Linked DNA regions of Homo sapiens: region 1 is linked to region 2. Evidence: fine-mapped expression QTL. A gene starts in region 2. The other region holds a variant in brackets. All regions are shown on one strand. Distances are from middle to middle. Region 1 overlaps LINC01932 (long intergenic non-protein coding RNA 1932). Region 2 holds the start of RNF145 (ring finger protein 145).

Evidence for each region. PIP is the estimated chance that this variant, and not a neighbour inherited with it, causes the effect. A credible set is the group of variants that fine-mapping cannot tell apart.
Region 1: its variant is the best candidate, but not a certain one, in a credible set for the expression of RNF145 in whole blood (INTERVAL, PIP 0.61).

What each region holds. Positions count from the first base shown.
Region 1 is chr5:159,241,586-159,244,393 of GRCh38, forward strand. The region is part of intron 2 of LINC01932 (long intergenic non-protein coding RNA 1932); the gene reads left to right. Among named protein-coding and RNA genes, the nearest start is that of LINC01932, 15 kb to the left of the region's middle. The variant C/G (reference allele first, on the strand shown) is at 1,275.
Region 2 is chr5:159,207,942-159,210,749 of GRCh38, forward strand. It overlaps RNF145 (ring finger protein 145), which reads right to left and starts at 1,612. Exons shown (of 11, transcript NM_001199383.2): 1 at 1,290-1,612. It overlaps LOC107986468 (a long non-coding RNA gene), which reads left to right and starts at 86. Exons shown (of 2, transcript XR_001742943.2): 1 at 86-739; 2 at 1,918-2,211. RefSeq lists enhancers at 1-378, 1-27, 118-167, 278-397, 1,985-2,084 and silencers at 1,295-1,484, 1,525-1,814.

The DNA of each region.
Region 1 (2,808 bases), 34 kb after region 2:
CTCCTGGTTTCAAGCGATTCTCCTGCCTCAGCCTCCCAAGTAGCTGGGATTACAGGCGTCTGCCACAACGTGAGCTAATTTTTTTGTATTTTTAGTAGAGACAAGGTTTCACCATGTTGGCCAGACTGGTCTTGAACTCCTCACCTCAGGTGATCTGCCCGCCTCAGCCTCCCAAAGTGTTGGGATTACAGGTGTGCGCCACCATGCCAGGCTGGAATATCTTTATGACCTTAGGTTAAGAAAGGTTTTCTTATACAAAGTACAAGAAGAACCACCTGTAAAGCAAAAGGTAATAAATCGTAAGAATTAACAACTTCTTTTCAATAAAAGACATGGTAAAAAGAATGAAAAGAGAAGCCATAACTGGGAGAAGATAGTCATATAATATATATAATGCACAAAAATTAGTATCTAGAGTCTATGAATAATTCCTACAAATCAATAAGGAAAAAGACAAATAACTCAGTAGAAAATGAGCAAAAGGCTCTTCACAGAAGAGGAAATCCAAATGCCGAGAAACACAGGAAACAAGATTCAGTCTCATTAGTAATCAGATAAATGCAAATTAAAACCACAATGAGAAACTGTTTAAATCCACCAGACTGGCATAAACGTAAAAATAAGACAATACCAAGTTTTGACAAGAATATAGAGCATTGTAAACTCACACACTCCTGGTGGGGTTGTGATTTGCTACAACAACTTTGAAAAGCAATTTGTCATCACCTAGTAAAGTCAAGTAAGCATGTGTCATATACCAAGCAATTCTACCCCTAATGTTAAACTAAAAAAAAATTCTTTGTACATGTGAAGCAAGAGACACAATAAGAAACTCCATTGCACAATAGCCCATAATTGTTCCTAACAGCAAAAAACATTGACACAATTGAAATTTCTATTGACATTAAAATGGATTACAAAACTGTCATCTATCCATATCATGGAATTTTATACAGCAGTGAAAATGAATACACTGCAACTACACATAATAAATGGATGAATTTCACAACACAGAGTGAAAGCCAAGTAGTAAGTCACAGAAAGTCACATATGATGTGACTTAATAGATGTAGTTTAAAAAACAGACAAAATCAAATAATAGTTTGTTTAGAGCTACCTACATGTGTGGTAGGGTCTAAGGAAAACATAGGCTTAACACAAAATTTAGGATAATAGCTACTTCTGGGTGGAGGTGAGCATGCGACGATAAACTATGATAAATATTTGAAGGAAAGGCTGGAGCTTATTTGAAGTTCATAATTAAGGGCCTGACT[C/G]AAGACTGTGGATTACAAAAGCCTTCCTGAGGAAGTGCACGTCAGCTGATACCTGAAGCGTGAGAAACAGTTTAGAGCAGTGCTTCTCAAACCTTAACAGAGACCCCCACCAATTGCTATGGGATAGAAAGGTATTTTCAGTCATAGTCAGATTTTTGATTATTAAAATAGAACTTTATCCAAATAAACATAAAGTACTGACTATTGGATTTTCTGCCTTCCTGGAGGAAAAACATCATTTTTTTTTCAAGCTTAGCCTCATTCGAATAGAATTTGAAAGATTTCACTCTGCTTTAATGGAAGCCAGACTTGAGAACAAATGATAATATATACAAAAACTGGTGGCCATAAGCAAAAAATCTGGAAATATCCGATTGTTTACTCTGGGTTAAAAGAGATTATGAGAGAGACCTGGTCTTCAGAAAATGCATTGAACATCCAAGTTCAAGTAGCTGCAACAAAAGCATCCTTTAAAATATATCAGATAAATTTTAAAAAAAACTTAAGGTGGCAATAAAAGATGGCCTGGATGAAAGCATATTTTTGTAAAAGCATAAATCTGCTTTCACAAGAAGCTAAGATAAAAAAGAGTGAGTAAAGTGAATAAACTGAAAAAAACTTGCAGAAGATGAAAGATTGAGCTGCTGTTCTTACATAGGAGAATGAGATCTGGGAATTGGAGATATTAACAATGCCTCAGACAATGGAGATTGTGTTGAGGATTAATAAAGTTTTTTATTGAGGTAAAATTCATTTAAAAACACTGTGAAGTATACAAACCAGTGGCTTTTAGTACATTCACAATGTTGTGCAGCCATCACTACTATCTAACTTCAGAAGATTTTTGTCACCCCAAAAAGAAACTCCATACACATTAAGCAGTCACTCCCAATTCCTGCCCCCACTTCCACCTGGTAACCACTAATCTATGTTTTGCCTCTATAGATTTGCCTATTCTAGACATTTTATATAAATTGAAACATTATGTGGCCTTTCGTGTGGGTTCTTTAACTTAGGATAGTGTTTTCAAGTTTCATCCATATTGTAGCAAGTATCAGCACTTCATTCCATTTTATGGCTGGATGACATTCCAATGTATGGGTCTGCCATATTTTGTTCATGCCATTTATCCACTCATGGATATGTAGCTTGTTTCCACTTTCTGCCCATTATAAACTATGCCTACTACGAACATTCATGTATAAGATTTTATTTGAACATATGGTTTGATTCTCTTGATATATTCCCAGGTGGGTAATTTCTGGGTCATATACTGTAGTAACTCTGTCTGAAACATTTTTAGGAAATGTTTTTTTTTTTTTTTTTTTTTTTTTTTTTTTTTACAGTGGCTATACTATTTTACATTCCCACAGCAGGTTTTGAGGGTTCAAGTTTGAGTTTTCCTTGCCAATACTTATTTCGCATTAAAAACAAAATTATTGTTATAGCCATCATAGAGGGTGTGAGGTGGCGTCTCACTGTGGTTGGATTTGCATTTCCCTAACAACTGATGATGTTGAGCATCTTTTTACGT
Region 2 (2,808 bases):
TTTTGGGCATGATTCAAGATTCAGTAAAACTGCACACTCCGTATTTTAAAAAATAAAAAGACACACAGTCCTCTCCTTCCCTTTCAGACTAGTTTCCTCTTTACTGCAGACTGCGACGCAAGGCCATCCACTAATCTTTGATGCCTGCTCACTGCACAGGCCCCTTCCTCTCTCCCCGCACCTCCTCCCACAACGCCTGCAGATCTCAGATGCGTTTGAACTACAGTAACCCCAACCCAGCTCGCGGCAAGCAGGCAGCGCAGCAGCAGTAGCAGCAGCAACCGGGCCGCCGCCGCCGCGGGGCTAAGAGATTACGTTCAGCAAAAACTCTTCCAGGAAAGAGGCTCGAGAGCTCCCCTCCTATCTCGCCAAGGGTGCTGACTCTGTCGCGCCACGCCACGTACCAAAAGGCTCGCGAAGAAAAACGCGGGCGAAGTTCAGCATCCCCGAACAGAAAGGGAACTCATTCCAGAAAGGGGGTTCACGGGTCTGAGGGTCCTTGGGTGGGGAAAGCAGTATTGGAGGGAGAAGACAGAAGGGATGGCAAGACAGAGGAAACCACGGGGACAAAAAGGAAGGGATGAGGAGCCCTCTTACTATAAAAGGGACTGACGGACGGGATGCAGAGCAATGGGCCCCCCTCGAAAAATGGACTGGCAGGCCCTTCCGCACCCCCAAACAACCTCGCACCACCTGAAAGCGGGGAGCTTGAGTTTGGGGCTGCGTAGATCAAAGCAGGGTAAGACGAAGGGAAAGAGGGAGGGGAGCTTGGAAGCAAAGTGAACAAAGAGGCAAAAGAGGCAAAGTTGGAAATGGAAACGAGAAAGGGAGCTGGAAAGGGGCCGCTCTGGAAGGGTCTTGAAAAAGGCCTAGAAATGGGATGCTGGGGAGGCAAAGGGGGACAGCCCCGAGGAAGGGCATCTCAGGAATGTAAGGGAGCGCTCCAGGCCCTGGGAAGAGGAAGGGATGGGAGGGCGGGGAGGCAGCCGAGGCCCGGGAGCTGGAACAGAGGGGGCTTTGCGCGGGGCCCAGGAGGGGAGAGCAGGGTCGGAGGGAGGCGACCACCGCGGGAAGAGCTAGAGGATGGGAGGGAGGGGTGCTGCGGCTGAAGAGGGGATGTGGACTCCTCCAATGCTAGGGAGAAGAGGGAGGTGAAGCGAGATAAAAGGAAAGGGGCGAACAGGGAGAAGAGGAAGGAGCCTGCGACGCGATGGGGGAGGGGAGGGAGGCCGTGGGAAGCGGCCGGGGGGCGCGGGGATGGGAAGGGGCCGGGCGGGCGGCGTGGTCACCTCAGGCTGCGGACTCCCTCCCTGGGGAGCGGCGCTGCCGGCGGGCGGGCTCCGCAACTCCCCGGCTCTCTCGCCCGCCCTCCCGTTCTCCTCGGGCGGCGGCGGGGGCCGGTACGGCACGGCTCACAGCGGCGGCTCTTCTGCGCCGAGCCTCGGATGTTGCTTCTGGGGAGGCGGAGGCAGCGGCAGCGGCAGCGGCCCGGCCCGTACGGTCACCATCGTCCGCGGCAGCAGGCGCTCGCGGGCCGAGCCCCTTAGCAGCCGGCGCCGGCGTCGGCGGCCATGGCCTCCTGCGTTTGCTCCTCCCGCCCCCGGCGCTCTGCGGCGGCCGCGGCCCGACTTCCGCACTCTGCGCCTGCGCGCGGCCCAGCCAGCGCGGCGCGCCCCTCCCGCGCGCGCCCGCGCTCACTCACAATCGCGCCCGCGGAGTGCTTTCCGCACCGCCTCCGGTGCGTGGGCGGGAGACATAAGCCTAGCCAAGCCCATACAGCCCGGCTCGGGTGGCTATGGAGAGGCGTACTGCAGAGACACCTGGACGCGCACTGTGACAGGCGCCATTCTGACACACGTGCTCTCTCACTCCCAAACACCACGGGCCGCAAGCGCTCACACCCACACTCACCTGCAGGGACCACGTGGGAGAATTTGAAGGGCTGATCCTGTCCCGGTGCATTCGCAGTAGCAATGATGCGAGAATTCGTTTTAACCTCGTCACTGACTGGACTAGACTGTAAACTCCTTGGCGTCTGGGATGGCTCAGCCGTGCCCAGCACCAAGTGCAGGCACTCAAACCCCTGTGGAGTAAGTGACTGGATGAATGAATGCATTGGAACTGTTCACTGAGTATCTGTAACAATTTTGATCCCATGGTTTGGTACAAAGAATTTTATTGCAGTATGAAATTAAATGGTGTTTGTGTGTTTGTCTTGTCTTGGTCTAAGGTTCAAAACAGGCTAATGTATGTTTTCCCCTCCCCAACGTAGAGGAGTTCCACTTTGTCTCTGTGCCAGTCTCTATCACAGAATGCGCAATCCTACCCTAATTTAAATGTCCACACCTTTTAGGGCAGGAACTGTTGCCCAGAATACATAGCCTGAAGCATATTGTGTGTTTACACAACGATAGTCTTCTGGGCTTGGCAAGACTTCTCATTCCCCATTTGTCTGCCACTCTGCCTCACCACGACCTTCTGCAACCCCCACTTCTATCTCCCCTGCCTTCCACCATCACCAAAACCCCTCCACTGTTTCTTGCTTTCTCTTTCGTTAGTTCCTGGGGAGCCAGTTGCTATGAGCACCTAGCCTGGCCTTAGATGTTGAAAGGGCCAGTGTACACAGAAGATACACACCCAGTGATGGGTAAGATGTTGCAACTATACTGGGTCATGCTGAAATTGTGAAGCCTCAACTTCTTCATGTGCAAGAGAAATTAATGTACTGTAATCTCGATGTCTGTGTTGAGGACCCTCCTTGTAAATTCAAGTCTCTGGCCTCTGCCCTTTGAATGGTAAACCCCCAAT